Linked DNA regions of Homo sapiens. The protein of the gene in region 1 interacts with the protein of each later gene in a pairwise test. Each region holds a gene or a part of one and is shown on either strand. Other genes may lie near its edges.

Region 1 (7,028 bases):
TTTATTTTCTGCTTGAAGTGCTCTCTTTTGGTTATTAAGGTCTCAGTTTGAATGTCACTTCCCCAAAGAAGCCTTCCCCAACCCTGAAATCCCAGATAGCCCTTCTGAGTTGCTCTGCTATATCACCACATTAAATTTCATGCACATAACTCAACACTTTTCAAAATTATCTTTTTTGTGTATTTGTTTACTTGTTCATTGTATGTCTCCCTCCCCTGGAGTGTAAGCTAGCTGAGGGCTAGAATTTTGTTTGTCTTATTCACCGCTGTATTCCCAGCCCCCAGAATACCTGACACATGGTCAAAGTTTGTTAAAATGAATGAATGAATGAATGAATGAATGGAAGAGACTCAGACAGGTTAAGTAAATTGTCCAAAGTCACAGAGCTAACAAGTCATCAAGCCATGGTTTGAATGCAAAATTTGGAGCTTTGTGTGGCTCCAAAGCCCATGTTTCCTGAACACTTCCCTCTACTGTCACAAAAAGCCATGTGTTCAGGACTTCAATTTACAAAATACTTTTGCATGCATTACCTAATTTGCTCCACATTGTAACCCGGTATGATATAATCATAGCTTTGCTTTTTCCAGATGTGGAAACCAAGGCTCAGAAAGGTTTAGTAATTAATCCAAGATCCCTCTCAGAGAAATAGAAGGGCTGGTAAGTAGCAAGGCAGGAATTCACTTCCCAGGAATTATGTATGGGTATGTGGCACCCAACCACACCACCTCTGAAGCTCACATTCTCACGCTGATAATCAAGGGTATTTTATACATGAGAACGGCTCATCAGGGCCATTCATTAGGAATCTAAGTGGGGAGCTGGAAGCACATTAAATGTACTGAGGCTAGGCCAGGTGTGGGGGCTCACATCTGTAATCCCAGCACTTTGGGAGGCCAAGGCAGGCAGGATTTCATGACCAGCCTGGGCAACATGACGAGACTCCATCTCTACAAAACAAACAAACAAACAAACAAACAAAAAAAAAACAAAAAAAAACAACTAGGTGTGGTGGTGTTCATCTGTAATCCCAGCCACTTGGGAGGCTGAGCTGGGAGGATCACTTGATCCCAGGAGGTCGAGGCTGCAGTGGGCTGAGATTGTACCACTGCACTCCAGCCTGGGTGACAGAGTGAGGCCCTGTCTCAAAAAAAGAAAGAAAACAAAAAGAAAAGTACTGAGGCTAAACAAAGCCTTGCTCCTGAAGAAAGGAGAGGTGTGGGGGTCCTATGGCAACTACTGTGGGTTTGCACAAAGGTCCCCAGATCATAAAACAAAGTGGTTTGGGGATCTTGGAAGGTTACAGGGGTGGACTTCAGTGTCTTGTACGAGACAAGGCATTTTAGAGTAAATTGGACATGTCCTAAGGTAAGGATCTGTGTCCTTCCACAGGTCTAGCTTTCTTGCCTGCCAGTGTGTCCTACCTCATTGGCACCAACCTCTTTGGTGTGTTGGCCAACAAGATGGGTCGGTATGTAGCCTCGGGATCTGGGACGAACAGTAGAAATGTAAGATGGAAGAGCGCCCGTTCCTGATCTTGGAATGATGAACAGCTTCCATACGGTTGAAAGTTTAGGATGAGTACACACCGATAAAAACTTCCCACTGGGAGGATGGGCAGTGAGTGAGTGGTGAGGGTGGTATGGAGAATGGATTGTCCTGAGCTCTGAGCTGATTGTTATAGAAGAGGCAGTGGATACATGAGGGGCACCCCTTACTTTCCATCCATTTGCTGTCCAGTTGAGGAGATAAAATAACCACAACAGAGAACAGCTATGAAAAATGCAGTACTTTGGGAAAGTAGTTTTCAAATTATGTTCTGTGGAATCCTAAGGAGTTCTATAGAGGCACCCCAGAGGCCACTGAGGAGGAAGGGTTGGGGGCCAAGAGCTATGAGTCTCCATTCTGTCCCTTCACTACAATAAGGACAGCTTTAATTTTATCTTTGGAGTTTAGCATCAAGATTTTAGAAGCACTGCCATAGGACATCAGAGAAGGAAAGAAGTTTGGTACTTTCTGTGTTTTTTGAGACAGACCTCAAGGACCAAATAAAATAGGACAGGTAGGAGGCAGTCTGAGCTGGGCAACAGCATGAGTTAAGTTTGAGGGCTACTTCTAAGGAACAAGTGCCTCCTGAGTCAGCTGATTCCTCCTGTAAGGGAAGGAAGAGTGTGTCCCACGGCACCTCCTCTGCCTTTCTATAGAAAAAGGGATGGAGCCAGGGGAGACAAGGAAAGGGCAGGGAGAGAGCTCATTTGGGTACAAACTGGTCATGTAGGGATGCTGTCCTCAGGTCCTAAGGGGTTGCTGGGATTAGGGCTGGTGGGACAGGTCAGCATGGCGGTGATGGGGTACAGGTGGAGGGGAGCTCTCCCCTAGTGGTGTTTGATGATGGCTTTTTTCTTCCAGGTGGCTGTGTTCCCTAATCGGGATGCTGGTAGTAGGTACCAGCTTGCTCTGTGTAAGTATAAGAAGACCTGGGGGAGGGGAAGGAGAGAGAGAGCGAGAGACAGACAGACAGAGAGAGAGAGAGAGAGAGAGAGAGAGGGAGAGAGAGAGAGAGAAAGACACAGACATTTAAAGACTAATTTCCTTTAAGATGAGCAGAGATGGCTTGGCAAGGACTGTCAGAAAGACTGTTTCTGAATAGGCAGGAATTTAGCACGGGGGAAGAGGCCACCAGCTGCAGTGGCTTTCCTTTGAGGGGAAGTGGGAAAGGAGAGGAAGAGGGCTGTAGGGCAGCTGGAGCCGGAGGTCTGAGGCTGTACATGTGGGCATATGAAGTGATACATGTTGGTATCCATTTCTGGGGATGGCAAAATGGTGCGTTTTATGACTTCATTTACTCATCCCACCCTGACAGAGCCTCATAAATCCCCAGGGAACCATCATCTATGTCCCAGTCTCTGGCACCAGAGGCTTGATAGAAGAAGAAAGAAAGAAGGACTTTTCCATTTCCAAGAATCCCCCTCAAGTTCTCAAAGCCTTCATTTCCTCCTCTCCCCAGTGGGGATGAGAAACACACAAACCTCCTAGGCCTGAGGGAGAGAAGAACAGGGCTACAAGGCACTGTAAACTGTGCTCAAGACCAGCTGGAGGTCCTGAGCAGGAGCATGGGATCCGGGTTCCATGGCAGGTTTTGCCACTTTCTATGCATGTGACTTTGAGCAGGTTACTTCATCTCCGTGTGCTCAGCATCCTCATCTATGTAGAGAGGGTTCTGATGGTGTCCACAGGGTTGTCAAGGTAATCCAAATAAACCACAGTGTCTGGCACATGGTGAGCCCATAGTGAATCTCAGCCAATACTATTGATAATTTATAAACATTTCTTGAGGCATGAACCCTAAAAATTGTTATCAGCCAGCAGCATCTAAACGGTATGCTAAACCCTTAAGGGGTGAGTGTCCTGGGGTAGCAGGTTTGAATGGCAGGTACCCAGAGAGGGAGGTAAGGAACCTGAAAAAGAGGGAAGAAGGGGTTTTTGTTGGGGGATTGGGAGGGCAATGGGAATGAGTCTCACAAGCTTCCTGACAGGGGACCCAAGCCACACCACCTGCCCCCTCTAGCTTACAGCTAACTGGTTGTTGGGGCCTCTTCTCTATCTTCTTTTTCCAACAGCTACCAAGTTAGAAGTCTAAATGAAACCTTTCAGTGATGTCCATAATGGAAAACAGAGGCAACTTTATTCCATGAAGAATGAGACCAGGAGTGTATGTTTAGGTGAAGAGGGGTAGAGGAAGGGGAGAAAGTATCCATGGAACAGAGGAAGACCCTCGTTAGAGCATAATGGAGCCAAGTCTGAGGTCCAAACTTGATCTTGCCACTCATTAGATCTGTAACTCTGGATAGAGCAATAAATAAACACAACAGCGCTGGTCAAGTTTTCATATCCTTAAAATGGAGGTATAGATTCTTTTCCATGAGAAAGTCTGAGAGTGCAGGAGGATGATGTATGTGGCCAATAGTGCACTCTGAATAAATGCATTTCATGTGAAAACTCTTTGAACCTTGCTCCCACCTGACCCATCTGGAGTCCTGATGACTCTTCCTCCTTCCCCATGCAGGTTCCTCTGGCTCACAATATTTTTGGTCTCATTGGCCCCAATGCAGGGCTTGGCCTTGCCATAGGTAAGAAGTGCCCTCAAAGAAAACAATAAGCCCCTGCATGTTGGCTTTGGGTCTGATGCCTTTCCTCCCCCTTTTCTCATCAGAGGAGGTAGGTGCAGAGGCAGAAGGATCAGGAGGGCAGCTGGCAGGGTTGTGGAGAGATGAGCTCGTAATTCCCACCTGGAACAGGTGTTAGTCCGAGGCAGAAGACAGCAGACAAAGCAAATGGACTAAATGGAGGAGGAGAGGCGGGGTGGTACTAACTGTGGGTGGGGCTGACTGTGTCCTGTTTGCTCTGGCCACAGGCATGGTGGATTCTTCTATGATGCCCATCATGGGGCACCTGGTGGATCTACGCCACACCTCGGTGTATGGGAGTGTCTACGCCATCGCTGATGTGGCTTTTTGCATGGGCTTTGCTATAGGTATGTTGGCAGGACCTGGTGCCCCACTTTCCCCTGTCTACTCTTTACCAGCTGGAAGTGCAGCCAGGAAGCTATCCTCCTAGGGTTCTGGAGATCTTTGACGCTGAGACATCCTCTGGGTCACCCACTGCCCCTAGCATAGTGTCCTACGTGGAGGATGCTCCATATGGAGGCTCCATAGACACTTATGACTTTGATGTATCCCTCCCAGGTCCATCCACCGGTGGTGCCATTGTAAAGGCCATCGGTTTTCCCTGGCTCATGGTCATCACTGGGGTCATCAACATCGTCTATGCTCCACTCTGCTACTACCTGCGGAGCCCCCCGGCAAAGGAAGAGAAGCTTGTAAGGAGCACCGACTGTTAAAAGAGAAATTCACTTCTGTTTCTTTCCATCATCTCTCTCATTCCCTTTCATCCTGGGCTGTTATTTCCTCCCTCTATTGCTCTGTTGATACTCTCTCTGCTTTGCCATGTTTCCCAATCCCCTTTCATCTTCATATTTCTTTTGTGCACTTCCTTAATTTCCCTTCTCTAAGTAACCACTTCCCTCTTTCTGGGGCTATCAGGAAGGGTCTTCAGTAGAGAAGGGAAATGGGGGCAGAGGACCATCAAAGACATCCTGTAGTTACTGTTCTTAGCTTGCTAGTTACTAGCAAGATGTGAGTTACCAAGTTAACTCCCTCATAAGTGGGCAGAATTCCATTGGCACATCCGTTCATCCACTCATTCACTCTAGTGCAACATTATCCTTACCAGGTCACTTTTTTTTTTTTTTTTTGATGGAGTTTCACTCTTGTTGCCCAGGGTGGAGTGTAATAGTGTGATCTCGGCTCACCACAACCTCTGCCTCCCGGGTTCAAGAGATTCTCCTGCCTTGGCATCCCAAGTAGCTGGGATTACAGGCATGTACCACCATGTCTGGCTAATTTTTTGTATTTTTAGTAGAGATGGGGTTTATCCATGTTGGTCAGCAGGTCACGTTTTTAAAAGTACAAAAACCCCAGGGAAGAGATCCATACCATAGGATTTTCTTTAATAAAGCACTTTCCTCTTACTGCAGCACAAACATCCTGAGGGCCTGATGGGTTTGGGATACCGACAGAGGCTGCTCAAGGGAACAAAAGAAGACATGAAGGTGTGATAGGGAGTGGTGGTGATTCCATTTGGCTTCCTGCTGTAACTTTCACTACCACTGTTAAATTCAGTTAAAAGCAAATGAGATACTTGTCCTGACAAGGGTTGATATACTAGGTACCCCGGGAGGCTGGTGCATGTACATGCAGAGGGTCCTATGCATGTTTCTTGAGTACTTAGCAATGCCAGCCTTGGAAGAACTAGTGGGAGGACGGAATGAGGAGATTGGTAAAAAAAAGATGTGCGGTGGTTGGCCGGGCGCGGTGGCTCACGCCTGTAATCCCAGCACTTTAGGAGGCTGAGGCGGGCGCATCACGAGGTCAGGAGATCGAGACCATTCTGGCTAACATGGTGAAACCCCGTCTCTGCTAAAAATACAAAAAATTAGCCTGGCGTGGTGATGGGCGCCTGTAGTTCCAGCTACTCTGGAGGCTGAGGCAGGAGAACGGCATGAACCCGGGAGGCGGAGCTTGCAGTGAGCCGAGATTGCGCCACTGCACTCCAGCCTGGGCAACAGAGCGAGACTCCGTCTCAAAAAAAAAAAAATGATAATAATGTGCAGTGGCTTCTCTTCTTGCCTCTCTCTGCAGGCTATTCTGAGTCAGGACTGCCCCATGGAGACCCGGATGTATGCAACCCAGAAGCCCACGAAGGAATTTCCTCTGGGGGAGGACAGTGATGAGGAGCCTGACCATGAGGAGTAGCAGCAGAAGGTGCTCCTTGAATTCATGATGCCTCAGTGACCACCTCTTTCCCTGGGACCAGATCACCATGGCTGAGCCCACGGCTCAGTGGGCTTCACATACCTCTGCCTGGGAATCTTCTTTCCTCCCCTCCCATGGACACTGTCCCTGATACTCTTCTCACCTGTGTAACTTGTAGCTCTTCCTCTATGCCTTGGTGCCGCAGTGGCCCATCTTTTATGGGAAGACAGAGTGATGCACCTTCCCGCTGCTGTGAGGTTGATTAAACTTGAGCTGTGACGGGTTCTGCAAGGGGTGACTCATTGCATAGAGGTGGTAGTGAGTAATGTGCCCCTGAAACCAGTGGGGTGACTGACAAGCCTCTTTAATCTGTTGCCTGATTTTCTCTGGCATAGTCCCAACAGATCGGAAGAGTGTTACCCTCTTTTCCTCAACGTGTTCTTTCCCGGGTTTTCCCAGCCGAGTTGAGAAAATGTTCTCAGCATTGTCTTGCTGCCAAATGCCAGCTTGAAGAGTTTTGTTTTGTTTTTTTTCATTTATTTTTTTTTTTAATAAAGTGAGTGATTTTTCTGTGGCTAAATCTAGAGCTGCTAAAAGGGCTTTACCCTCAGTGAAAAGTGTCTTCTATTTTCATTATCTTTCAGAAACAGGAGC
Region 2 (7,028 bases), on another chromosome or scaffold:
TTGTGATCCACCCACTTCGGCCTCCCAAAGTGCTGGGATTACAGGCGTGAGCCACTGCGCCCGGCCAAGTACATTTTTTTCTGAATCATTTCAAAGTCCATTGTAGACCTGATAACACTTTACTTCTAAATACTTCTTCAGTATATGTCTCCTAAAATCAAGGGCAATAAGGTTTTGACATGCCTATTTAAAACAAAAACTTCTAACTCTATATACGGCAGATATTACTATGGAAGTTATAAAATATTATCTTTTACAAATAACCAAAATTAGTCATAAACACAGAAAGAAATTAGACACATACTGTACATTTTGACTTACCTGAAGTTCAAGGACAAGCAAAGCTAATCTAAGTTGATAGAGGTCAGTGGTCTTGGGAGGTGTGGAGGGTAACTGACTTAAGATGGGGCATAAGTGAATGCTCTGGAGGCTACAACTGTTGTGTATCTTGATCTGGGTGGTAGTTTAACAGGTGTATACGTATGTAAAAATTCATTGAGCTATATACTTCAGACTTGTGCACAACACTAAGTTATACTTCACTTTTTAAAAAAATTCCTTTAAAAATAAAGTAAGCTCTATATGAGGTATTGAAATAGTTTTTGTTCACCCACTTGATTTTTAAAAAAATAAATGCCAACTGATCTTCCATTTTTATGTAGGTGACTAGCATGTAAGATAACCATATCAACCACAGTATATTTAAGTTTTAATTTAAAAAAATATTAAAAGTGTATCTAAATATTACCTCCAAATATGATATGCCAAGAGGGGCATATTGAGACCCAGTGTAAGCCACTCTGCTGCACAAAGAAACATGACACAGAAGAAAGCGTGGATGAGGTACTCTGGGAGTACAAGCTGGAAGGAAAACACAAGCCAGTTATCAAAATGCCTCAGCATTAAGTCAACTACTAATCTGGAAAGCAGGTGGCAACCAAGTTTCCATAATGAAAAATCACTGTTTTCTTAGACTCAGAAATAAAAGATGCTACTGAGTTTTATTTCCATGTTTAACTTTTTACCAAAAGTAGGATTACAGGCAAACTGACCAGAGCATATAGCTTGCACTAACATAGTAAGATACATGACTTAAAATTCAAAGCTCAAATCCTTAGAGAAACAGATCAAATTATATAAAGTTACCACCCAGATTGTTAAACAATATGCTAGTCAACTAGAATACTTTTTCTTTTCACCATTCAACAATGATAGAAGTACAAAAATGAGATATCTGATCACATGCAACATATTAAAAATTCCACAGAAACAAAACTCCCCTTTGGAATTTTACATATCAGTGTTTTTAAGCCTTTAACAAAAACCAGAAATGCTACATACACAATATTTAGCAAACCACATTGCATTCCCACAGAAGTAATTTTTTAATGGAAAGCCAATCAGCCAATAATCTCAGCACAGTGAGGGGAAGAACACTAATATGCGCAAATGTAAAAGATTCGCTTTCTGCAATGTAGGAGGGAAAAGACTGAGTTCTTAACCATGAAATTAAGATTTTCCAGGTTCCCAAGTTCTCATTCTTAGGTGGCCTTTCCGTTTCTTTACCCCTGCTTGCCAACAAAATGCTACAGACACAACAGAAGACCAGTAGAAGCTCAGAACCCAAAAACAAAATAAACCTTTTGGTACTAGGTAATATTAAGTGAAGAAAAATTAATTCGAGCAAAATGCTTTTTATAAAATGACCAGGAGTTAATGCTTTATGTTAAATTATCTTTCTCATCCTAAAGATTTCAGCCTGAGGACTTTGTTAAATAAAAATACCAAAACCTCTCATTGCAAGTTTCAGCCGAAGTATCTCCTGTAAGTCACAGCTACAAAGCCAGTTTCTCAAATGTTTACTTCATACCAAATGGAAATCATATGAATACTTATCATCATCAGATCACTCCTGAGGGGAAACCATGGCTGTAGATATTGTAATCACACTACATACTCAGACCCATTTTCTCATACTCCCAAATTACTCTTTCCAATTTAAAGCTGTAGAGGGGACTTTCTAATGAATACTATTTTTAAAAAAAATCCAGGTAAACAACTCATCTACACCACTAACCAAATATTTTCTACAAACTTAAGCAATACAATAACAAAGGATAAACTCGGCATATGTACCTAAACTTCTAAATAACATTTAAGCCAGCATCTATTTAAGATCAAAGTTCTCTAAACAAGAAAAGGGCCATAGGACTCTGAAACTCAAGGACTATAACCAGAACAAACCAAGAAAAATATACATTTTATTAAGAATTCCACTAGAGTTGCTTTTATAATACTTGTTTAAATTACAGACGTTGTCTTTAAAATATAAGCCTATTTCAGCCCTAAAAAGCCATCTGATACCTAACAAACAAATCCTCATGCAAGGTTTTATCCTACACTTACAGAATGAAGTATGGAAAGAATGATTTTGAAAGCATGAACCCCTCCCGCTCTTAATATTACTTTAATAAAAGTGTTAATAAAGATAATCTACAACTCTACCAGTTCTAATATGAAACAATGCCATTCCCTCCCTTCTCCTCAAAAGGAGTCCAGAAACATTTACTACCCATCTCTCTTAAAAACCAACCCTCTCCGAGCATTCTTTAATGACAAAATTTCCCCATAAGAGACACAAAAATTATTCAATTTAGGAACCAAGGTTCAAACAGAAACTAGTATCCAGAAAAAAAACCTCAAGCAAATATGGCTGAAATGATAACATTTAAACATGCAAAATATAATATTCTCTTGTTAAAGTTCACAATTTAAAAAATAGTGATATTTGTCTTCCCCCATACTTTGGCAGAACTGTCAAAACAAATTTAAATAGGGAAAACTGTCAGATGCACTGCTATTCAGCCAATTATTGGCACCCTATCCAAAAGGCAACCTGTGCTGCTATAAAAACGTCCTTCAACCTCCTGCAGCATTAGGATGTCCCAAGCACATGTCTCTTCTCAGTGAGAATTTCTTTCCGTTAAGAAAAGCCAGGAATCGCACATTACCTGTTAAAATGAAACCTGTCCCTCCTAAATTTACAATACATTAGGAAAATACAAGAACTTGAGCTTCAAAAATTAGGCTGTCTTGAGTTCAAGTTCTGACTCTATCTTAGCTGTATAACATTCGGCAAAGTGCTTTAACCTGGCAAAGCTTCAGTTTACTCTCCTATTCATGAGATAACAATTTACCTACCTCAGGATTGTCATGAGAATTAAATTTAAAAATTCAGGCAAAGTGCTTACCACAGAGCCTAGCACCCAGGAAAATCCTCATCTGATTTCAAATATTTTTACCTTCATCATCATTTGGTTATTGAAGTAATGAAAAGACAAACAGCACAGAATACTATTAATAAACAGCTATCAAAAGGGGAAATTTCAGTTTCTTCATTTCCTGGTAACAACTTCAACTACTTAGGTTAAGATGTTTTAAAATTAACACTTAATGCTTTCCAAGAGAAGGCAAATTCATCTTCTTATGTCTTGTTTCATAAGAGCAAAGAAACAGCTAATAAGTTAATACTTTTAATTGTACCTACATCAACTCTTACTGTAACAGTTCTCTAAAGACAAACTAGAAATCTCTTCCACCATCCACATTTATCTGGGAAACAATAATAAAGTACCAAACTAACTTTCTAGATGCTTTTCCAAATAAAATCCCTCTAGCACCTAGTGCTAGTACACTAGTATGCTAGACAATTAAAATCTACACAAACTCTCCCCTTCGTTAAGTAATTTTTAAAGCTGAATTACTGTATTTTATTTCTTGAAGACATACCCACTGCTTTCTTATAAACAACCAACCTTTCAATTACTGACCAGTCAGGCAAAATCAAATACACAGGCTAAAAGAGTATCTTCCTAAATGCAGGCAAAAATACAAAAAAACAAACTGGGTACCCTGGTGTGTGCCTGTAATCCCAGCTACCCAGGAGATTGAGGCAGGACGATCACTTGACCCAGGAGTTTGATAAGAGCCTGGGCAATATAGAGACACCCCCATCTCAAAAGAAAATTTAAAAATACATACATATATATTTTTTCAAAAACCCTAAGCACAATGGAGCTACATTATCACTAAATTCATGATGGCTCAGAACTCAGTGTAATTCAGGCCTGTTTTAGAAACAGAAAGTAGATACACACTAGAAATAACCACATAGACATTTGTATACAAATTGTTATCTACAAAATTATGGCACCCTAAGTCCAAAGAATGGCATTGCTGCGAGATCCCAGAGCCCCCAGAACAGAGCTATCCACCTAACAGGCTCTGAATAAACATCAGCTGAAAGAATGACTCATTTATTCCAGAATATGCAAACCAAAGATAAAACTAGATATGGCAGATAAGTCCATACTAAAGATTTCACTCACATACTACCTCACAATAAGTCACAACCCGAGAATCATCTCACCATCTATTAGTCATTTTATGTTAACCAACTTTCAAGTACTACACCAAATAATTTCACATAGAAGTGCCTATGGCTATAACATAAAAAAACGCATACGCATTTAACAGCTTTCCCTACTTGACTGGGCCAGCAAGCATATATTTGCATAAAATATGAAATTTCATGAAATCATAAACCTCAACAGGCATATGAACGAGCACACTGAACAAAACGTTACAAATACAAATGCCCTAACCCTCCCCATGAAATGAATATAGCATTAAAACATTTAACTAAAAAGCAGTACACACCTTTAATGCAATTTTGACTCTTTTAATCTTTTTGACCTTTTCAACTGTCTTTGGCCGACAATGTAAAAAGCAGATTGGAAGAATGTTAGTATGACAGCTGACAAGATCACCAGCAGATTAATAATAGAATAGTCAAGCACGACAGGAAAAAGAAGATTTTTTAAATTCTGCCTACTTCAAAAAGTACAAATATATTATGCTACTCAGAATACTGGCCATTTTCAAATTACTTCAAGTTAAAAACAAACATATTTTTAAAATCTAAAGATAAATCCTATATTATAACTTACGGGATTCAGGGTATTACACTGGTCTATAGGATTCTTGTAATCAGTCTTCAGCTCATCAAATGCTATAATCTAAAATAAAATTAAAACAGTTAGGACCACTCACTTTAATTAAAAGCAGCAACAAACCTGCCCCATCTTCAAATAATTATTAAAGTTAATAAAACAAGAACAAAAGTACACCAAGATCCCAAATACCAATTTACAGTAAACTCATATATGACAAAAAGAACCAGAATGCGATTTAAAGTGAAAACACTCTTATCTCAGTATCACTAAAATTTGGTATTACTGTAATAAATACCTTCAATTTTCAATTTCGTCAATGCCTCTGCTCAAGTTATTTCAACTTATCTCTACTCGAAATAATCTTCTGAGTAGAAAAATAATTTCAACTGTTTATCCAAATTCCTCTTTATCCTAAAAAAAAAACAAACCTTCCTAGGTCAACTTCTTTCTGCAGGCTTTCCTAACTCCTTTGGGCAGAAGTAATTGCCCACATCTCCACACAGCATGGGACTCTATAATGCCATCGATATGGCTTTTCTCACCCTGGAGTGTGGTATTTACACACAGGTCTGTCTGCCCCTCTACACTCTCAGGGAGAAGGACCATTTTTATTTATCTGTGCATGCTCCTCCTCCCTTGGCACAGTGCTCAGTGGGACACTAGAGATGGATTCGAACTCTTCAATGTGTTCCCATTGGTGCCCAAACACATACATTTGTAAGGATGCTTTTGTCCACACTCTGGAGGAATGTGGCTTCAACCTCAAGGGTCACTAGAATGTACATTAAGAGTCAAAATAGGGACTCTGCACCACTTTGTGGCATCATTTCAGGTGACAAAGAAAGAAAACAAAGGCAGCAAGTTGATGGGGGAGCCATTTTAGTTGCTAACACTACTCACCCCAGGGACACACAAACTAAGCTACCCTTCCCTTAATGAGTTAGGAATAGTATCTTTATATGTGAAAGTGTTGCTCAATATTATCAGTAATCAGTAAAGTTACATATTTCCATCTTTTAACATGACTGTTTATTTCCCTGTTAAAATTTAGATTCATAAAAAGACGGTTTTTTTAATTTCTAGAGTTCCATAAAATTCACCCACCTGCCCTAATAAAAACTCCAACCAAACAACAATAGAAGGAAAATAATAAAACATTAGAATGTAATCTCTGAAAGAACAAAGATTGTTGTATTTACTATTATGTCCCAGGGCCTAAAATATAAAATAGTGCCTGGCACATAGTTAAGTGTTCAATAAATATTAACTGGAAGGAGGGGGTGAAAAAAATAGCACTAGGGATTAAAAAAAAAAAATGCAGAACTCACCAGGGGGATTTCCCTTGGCTAATGACACCTAACACAAATGTTAAAAACATACATGTGTAATTAGAAAATACTAATTTCTGATTACTTATGGACGTTATTAGTCTGCTACTTGACGTCAGCCGTGGTATATAACCCCAATGCATTTTAGTAATAAAGCTCAAGACAAGGATGATAATCATAAGTACTTGTCTATAACAAGATCCAACTTAACAGAATACAAAACTTGTCTTTAAAACTGACATTTAATTGGACATTTTCTCCAGGTGACTTCAAGGGTTTTTTTTTTTTTTTTCTTGAGACAGGGTCTTACTCTGTCACCCAGGCTGGAGTGCAGTGGCACAATCTCGGCTCACTGCAACCTCCACCTCCTCGGCTCAAATGATTCTCCTGCCTCAGCCTCCGGAGTAGCTGGGACTACAGGTGCATGCCACCATGCCTGGCTAATTTTTGTAGTTTTTGTAGAGATGGGATTTTACCATGTTGCCCAGGCTGGTCTCAAACTCCTGAGCTCAGGTGATCCACCTGCCTTGGCCTCCCAAAGTGCTGGGATTACAGGAATGAGCCACTGTGCCTGGTCACAGGGATTTTTTAACTATGTTGTTGAATGGGTTTCTCTTTGAGTGCTATAGGCTAGGGTTTTCGAACCTCTTCTGAGAATATTCTTAATGATTTTCAAATCTTTTTG
Region 3 (7,028 bases), on another chromosome or scaffold:
TGAAAGATAGTTTCCATAAGAAATAAAAAAACAGAGAAAGCACTCATGTGTTTCTTTATAAACTACTATTTTATACAAATATTTGTTTAAGGTTTGTAGAAGTATAGTTGCCACCATGAGATACCATTTTAACAGAGAAATATCACACACACACACACACAGCCCTCATGGTCATTATTGCCATTAGTTACAACAGGCATAGCCCAAGTAGAATTGGCTTACAAAAAAGTTTATCTCGCCAATAATACAGACACAGCTTTAATCAAGCAGTTGATGAATAAAATGAAATTAAAACAATGGCAGTCCAATCATCTCCTTCAGTTCAAACAATTGATGACCTTTGCATTTTAAGTTATCTTCACTAAAGTTACCCCTCTGGGGCGGAGTGTAGTGACTCCCAGCTCATTCCATACTTGCCATAGGACCTTGGGAAAAATAACCTCTCTCAACCTCCATTTCTTCATCTGCAGAAAGTAGTCAAAATGCCTACTTACGAAGGTGTTGAGTGAGTTGGCAATACCATATACAATATCTCTAGTATATAGTAGGTGCTCAGTAAACAACTATAATTATCTGGACTCACCTATGGTACAGCAGAAAAAGCATCAACATCAGAGCCATGGTGAGTGCCTTCTAGCTTGGCTCTGTTGCTAACTGTGAGGTCTTTACTAAGGCAAATTCTATACCCAGACTGCAGCTTCCTCATTTGTGAAATGAACAGAATGGTTTCTGAGGTTTGGACTAGCTCTAGAAATCCTACCTAGTGACCAGAATCAGTCCGCAAACTCTTTAGTGGGCTATATTAAAATATCTGTTTTTGTTAGAGGTCTTGTAGAGTGGCTTGTTGTACAAAGCAGATCCCCAGGACCATGTGGCATCTGGCTATCTAGGGCAGGGGCAAAATCAAGTGAGAAACAACCAAAGTTTCTTCTCTCTTTCCTCTAGCCCATGCGCCAGACAGATAATACTTTTCAACTGATTTATAGTCATTCACATAGTGCATATATTGGAAGGAGAAAAGAGGGGTCATAAGGGAAAGGCTGAATTCCTATTTCTCACAGGAGACAAAGCAGCCTGGTACCCTGGATGCCTAATTTGAGAGATCCAAGTCTTCATTTTAAATCTTTACAGGCTGGGCATGGTGGCTCACAGCTGTTATCCTAGCACTTTGGGAGGTGGAGGGGGGCAGATTGCTTGAGTCCAGGAGTTCAAGACCAGCCTGGGCAACATGGCAAGACCCCATCTCTAAAAAAAATATAAAAATTAGCTGAGTATGGTGGTGGTTGCCCGTGGTCCCAGCTACTCCAGTGGCTGAGGCAGAAGGATCACCTGAGCCCAGGAGGTAGAGGCTGCAGTGAGCTGTGATCATGACACTGCACTGCAGCCTGGGCGACAGAGCGAGGCCCTGTCATGAAAACAAACAAACAAACAAAAAATATTTACTAATTATGTAACTTGGCACAAGTAACCTAGCTTCTCCGTGCCCTTGTTTCCTCTTCTATAAAACACAGGTGATGATTCACCCCTTGCCTGTTCTATAAGGCTCAGATGAGATGCCATGTGTCAAATTTACTTCCAGCCCTAAAGTAGGTATAAATGTGACAGTAGTCAGCTGCCTGTTTTACAGCACACCTGCAGCTACTCAGCTCTGATTGACTTCAGTAAGATATACTTCAGGCTGTGGTCTAATGGCTGGGATGTGGCACCGGCTTCAGTAAGATATGTGACCTGGATAGACAGTCTTGATTTCCAAGACATCTTACATGACTTACAAGCAATAAAGACAAGAGCAAAGATGTGTCCCCAAAAGAGGGATTTTCAGATTCCAGGAAAGACCCAGTGGAGTCCGCATAAGTGGTTAACATGAACAAGTGAATGCTAAGGAAACCCAAGATGAAGATTGAACAGAATCTTAAAATGTCTGAGCTGGAAAGGGCCGTATTAATTGCCTTCTCACTTCAGAAATGAATAAATCATGAAAACTGATAAATAGCATTTACTACACTCTCCCTTTGTCCTAGGCACAATTACATATGTTAACTTATTTATGTCTTACATCTCAGAGAGGGGTACTGTTCTAACTTTACAGAAGGATAAAATCGAAACTAATGCTCAGCAAAGTACAAAGAACAAGAATAGCAACAAAAATAACTATTTATTCCAACATGGGTTCTTTGCATACATTTATTTCTTCAATAATATTTATTAAGAAGTAACTAAATCCAAAAATTATTTTAGATCCTGAACAAGAGAGAACAAAATCTCTACTTTGATGGAACTTCCATTCTGTGGGGAAGAGACTGACAATAAGCAATTAAATAAATAAGGTAATTTCCTACAGTGATCAATGCCGTAAAGCAATTAAGATAGGATTTTGTAAAAGACAGCAAATAGGAGTACATGTTATAGATTGAGGGTTCAAGGTAGGCTCCTCTAGGAGCTGACATTTGAGCTACACCTGAACAAAAAGACACTAGCCATGCACAGACCATGAGCCCAGTTAAGTGTTATAGCAGCCCACGAGATAAGAATTATTATTATTTCAATTTTACAGTTGAACCTGAGGCCCAGAGAATTTAAAGAACTTGCCCAACATCTCAGAACAAATGGAGGAATCACTATTGAAACCTAGGCAATCTGACTCAGGAGGCCACAGTCTTATATACTGCATTAGAAAGCCTTAGAGAGCCTTTTCTTTTTCTTTGAGACCGAGTCTCACTCTGTTACCCAGGCTGGAATGCAGTGGCATGATCTCAGCTCACTGCAACCTCTGCCTCCTGGGTTCAAGCAATTCTCCTGCCTTAGCCTCCCGAGTAGCTGGGATTACAGGTGCACACCAACATGCCTGGCTAATTTTTGTATTTGTAGTAGAGATGGGGTTTTGCCACGTTAGCCAGCCCGGTCTCAAACTCCTGACCTCAGGTGATCTGCCCATCTTGGCCTCCCAAAGTGCTTGGATTACAGGCATGAGCCACCGTGCCCGACCTAGAGAGCCTTCTTGATGTGACTTGCACAAGGTGGCAGAGTTAGAGACAGAGAGAGGCCTGGAATCGACCCCTCCTGCTTCTACAGATAGTCCTTACCATACTCTGCAATGTTGCCTCTGGCCCATCATAATGCACAAAGGCAGATAAGCAAAAGGACAAGGACAAGTCCATTGAAAATACATTTTTCAATATTAAAGCAAAAGAAAAGCATCCAGGAATAAGAAACAAAGAGGACATGCAGTCATATATGCAAGGTGTCCTCTACAAAGATAAAGAATGCCCCAAACCCAGTTGTCAAGATCACTGGCAGGGACTCCTGGGCCCACATGCTCTTCCTAAACAACCCCTCCATCTCCTTTCTCAGAACTCAGCAGTAGGCCTTGCCTCAGATCCAAGGTCACTCGGAAGAGGCCATGTCTACCCTCAATGACACTCATGGAGGAAATGCTGAGAGAAGCATTCAGATGCATGACACAAGGTAAGACTGCCAAAAATCTTGTTCTTGCTCTCCTCATTTTGTTATTTGTTTTATTTTTAGGAGTTTTGAGAGCAAAATGACAACACCCAGAAATTCAGTAAATGGGACTTTCCCGGCAGAGCCAATGAAAGGCCCTATTGCTATGCAATCTGGTCCAAAACCACTCTTCAGGAGGATGTCTTCACTGGTGGGCCCCACGCAAAGCTTCTTCATGAGGGAATCTAAGACTTTGGGGGTAAGTCAGTTGCCTTCCATCCCATGTCGTAGGGATTCTCTGGCTGACAGAAGCTGATGCGGTATAGGCCACATACAGAATTCAATCCAATTTGAAGAATTGGGATCCAACCTGATGTCTTCTTTATGTCTAACACAGTGGGCCAAATCAGGGGTGCATCAGAGAAGTTATCACTTAGATCACCTCTGGGTGATCTTATGTCACCTTTTGGTTTTGGGGCTTGTATATGCAGGGGTCCCCCATCCCAGTCCATTGCCAGAATCCCAGGCATACCTGCTCCCTGGAAATGCCCCATGTGGTTGAGGAAACAGATTCGAACAAGAAAAAGACAAAATTCTTGGCACCTCCACTGCTTCCTTTAGGCATTCCTCACAGCTCCAAGTCAGGAGCCAGAGCTTCCAACCTTGTCTTTGCCTGCTAGCAGTGATGATTTCAGCTCATCCACTGCTGCCTCTGTTCTCTCCCCAGGCTGTCCAGATTATGAATGGGCTCTTCCACATTGCCCTGGGGGGTCTTCTGATGATCCCAGCAGGGATCTATGCACCCATCTGTGTGACTGTGTGGTACCCTCTCTGGGGAGGCATTATGGTGAGTAAAAGAATAGCAGCCATTTGGGAAATGGTGCAGACAAAAATGTTAAAAGGCTCCACAGGGATATGCCAGATTATTTCTGTGTTGAGGGAAATATATGAGTAGGAAATATTATTGGGTTAAAGTAATTAAGAAGACAGGTTGACCAAATTGAGTATAAATCCCATGGTTGAGAGTCAGTGGTCCTGTTTCATGTGAATTCAGAGAAAGGGGCCCTGCATGGATCTCACAGGGACTGTCCAAAGCAAGAACTCTCCAAAGTCAGTTCTGGTGGGGAGGGTGGCCCTAGACATTTAGACTAGATAGCAAGATGTTTTGGAAAGCAAGAGGCAGCAGGAACATCCACTTCCATCTACCCCTTCTTGCTTACAATTCTGTTTGGTTACTATGGTACCTGGTGAAACCTGTCCCATCACAAGTCAGTCTCATTTTGCTTATCGACAGAGCAGCACTCTTTTGGCTGTTTTACGTACATGTTTTCCAAATCTGTAACCCTGTCTGGGTGTGGCACATAGGACAGTGATGTTTATTTCCCCGTGATACTTTTCATAGTTGCCACTATAAAAGATAAGTCCAGGATTAAAATTTTCCAAACAAGTAGAGATGGGTTAGAACAAGAGTTTCCTCCATTCTACAGCCTGAATGTGAGAAAAGGAAGATGAGCAATAGTCATCATCACTTCCTGTAACAGCCAATGTTTTCATGGAGTGCCTGTGCCATTCAGGTCAAGTATTTCCTTCTGCATCAGTTCACTCTTCAGAGGGCATCAGAGTCATTTATGTCACTGTGAACCCCAAAGGGCAGTTCCACAAGTTAAAAACAAAGAAAAACTAGAAATAAAACTTTTAAATTTATGGTATGAGTATTAATTGATGAGGAAATTTGAGTTCTGTCTCTTTGGTCTTACTATATTCCTAGTCACAGATCCCCAGATGATTGAGTAAAAGGCATGAATTTAGTGTCACTGAGCCTGAATAAAGGAGGAATATGACAGCTGAAAAATGAATACAACTGATAAAAATGGGTGGATGGTTGTGTGAAAGTTGCTGAAAGTGTAGGCTTCTTTCTGACCAGTTATCAATGTTAAAAAGTGATCTCCCTCTCTCCTCTATCTCCTGTCTTGCCCACCCCCTCTCCATCTCCCCCACCTCTCTTTTTTACAGTATATTATTTCCGGATCACTCCTGGCAGCAACGGAGAAAAACTCCAGGAAGTGTTTGGCAAGTAACCATATGTCCTTCTTTCCCACATGTCAGAGAAGTACCTATTTTTTTCGGTTAAAAACTGAGACCCTTAAAAAGCCAAGGTATCACAGCCTCTCAGCCCTAAAAAGCAAAGACCCTCCACAATGTTATTGTGATTTTATTTATGAAAAACTTAGAAGCGAGGTCTATCTGAAGTATGTTCATGGGAACAGAACTAAAAGCAGATCCATGAAAACCATACCTACAGTCTTAAGAACGTTAAATGCTGTGTGAAAATAATAGACCTTTCTGAAAGCCCTATCATTTCTCCCAGATCACCATTTAGGAAAATTATCTGATCAATGTCATGATTGATTCAAATTCTAGCTAAGCCATTTTTTGGCCGTAACATTGAACAAGTCAGTTTACCTCTATGTTCCTGAGTTTTCACCTAGAAAGGAAGGGTAACAGTCCTTGCTACCATGTGACGTCCAATGGAGATGAAAGGCAGTAGAGTGTGTGATGGTGCTTCACAGGCTATAAAGTACTACACTGTGGTCTTGCCCATAAAACCCCTAGGGACTCATCTAGATCCAGAGGAAACTGGCCTGCAGAGCTGCTGATGCTGTATGGATGAAAAGAGTTTAGCAGCAAGTTCGCTCCCAAAAAATTCCTCCCCCAACACTGTTACTAAACTGTGTCACTTTCATAATCAATGAGGGAATGGGTGGATTGAGATGGTTCCTGTCTTAAAGTGGCCTGACACACTCAGTTTGGGGGGAAAACTTTTTATGAACATCAAATTATTCTCTAGATACAGCCAGATTTACTGACTTGCCATGTGTAGGTCATAGAGCCAGGAATGAAATATGCGCAGCATAAAATAATAATCAATAATCCCATATCATTATGGTACTTGTTATTTATATTTTCCTGTTTCAACCTTTTATCATCCCTGCAAGGTAGAACATTCACACTGATATTTTCTTACCTATGCTACCCAAAGACATCAGCCCTAATTGTATTTTGGAAGATAGCTGACTGGGGCTGATTGCAACCTATGTCAGCAGGAATAGATGTTGTTACTGTTGTTGCTTCTGCTTTTTTTATTTCCATTTATTTGATAGTACAGATCTAGAGGGTTCTATCTGAACCTTCCCAACCTATACTTCATAATACCATCCCACTAAAGTGTGATACAAGAAACTTCTTCACTCTCTTCCCTCTACCTATTTATGAAGGCAGATAATAAACTGGATAATATTTATCTTCACTTATTCAACAAACATTTATTGAGTGCCTACTAGGATGGTGGCAGTGGCAGTGAAGGAAATGCAAGGATACAAGATATAGAATCAAGGGTTACTCTTAGAATTTTTGCTTTATAAAACAGATGGATGGTGAATGAGATAGGGAAGACTGAGAAAAGAACAGGATAGAGACATGATTTTATTTTATAGTGACAAAGAGGCTAAAAACAACTGAGAGAACTTCAGTATATTTAGTTGTAGTTGCTTTGTGAGTCAGGGCAGTTGCATTTGGAATTCCCTCCC

The links. Proteins that work in one complex are often made in the same cells at the same time.
Region 2: the proteins of SLC18A1 (region 1) and CNIH1 interact in binary tests that used the Homo sapiens proteins (3 or more experiments, as listed by UniProt).
Region 3: the proteins of SLC18A1 (region 1) and MS4A1 interact in binary tests that used the Homo sapiens proteins (3 or more experiments, as listed by UniProt).

What each region holds. Positions count from the first base shown.
Region 1 is NC_000008.11:20,145,109-20,152,136, reverse strand, and holds part of SLC18A1 (chromaffin granule amine transporter), read left to right. Parts: intron 1-1,392; coding exon 1,393-1,471; intron 1,472-2,409; coding exon 2,410-2,461; intron 2,462-4,066; coding exon 4,067-4,130; intron 4,131-4,414; coding exon 4,415-4,534; intron 4,535-4,745; coding exon 4,746-4,879; intron 4,880-6,260; coding exon 6,261-6,374; 3' UTR 6,375-7,028.
Region 2 is NC_000014.9:54,431,360-54,438,387, forward strand, and holds part of CNIH1 (protein cornichon homolog 1), read right to left. Parts: intron 5,079-7,028; coding exon 5,010-5,078; intron 862-5,009; coding exon 749-861; intron 1-748. UniProt on the Homo sapiens protein: Involved in the selective transport and maturation of TGF-alpha family proteins.
Region 3 is NC_000011.10:60,458,834-60,465,861, forward strand, and holds part of MS4A1 (B-lymphocyte antigen CD20), read left to right. Parts: intron 1-2,238; 5' UTR 2,239-2,327; intron 2,328-3,351; 5' UTR 3,352-3,541; coding exon 3,542-3,700; intron 3,701-4,168; coding exon 4,169-4,288; intron 4,289-5,454; coding exon 5,455-5,511; intron 5,512-7,028. UniProt on the Homo sapiens protein: B-lymphocyte-specific membrane protein that plays a role in the regulation of cellular calcium influx necessary for the development, differentiation, and activation of B-lymphocytes.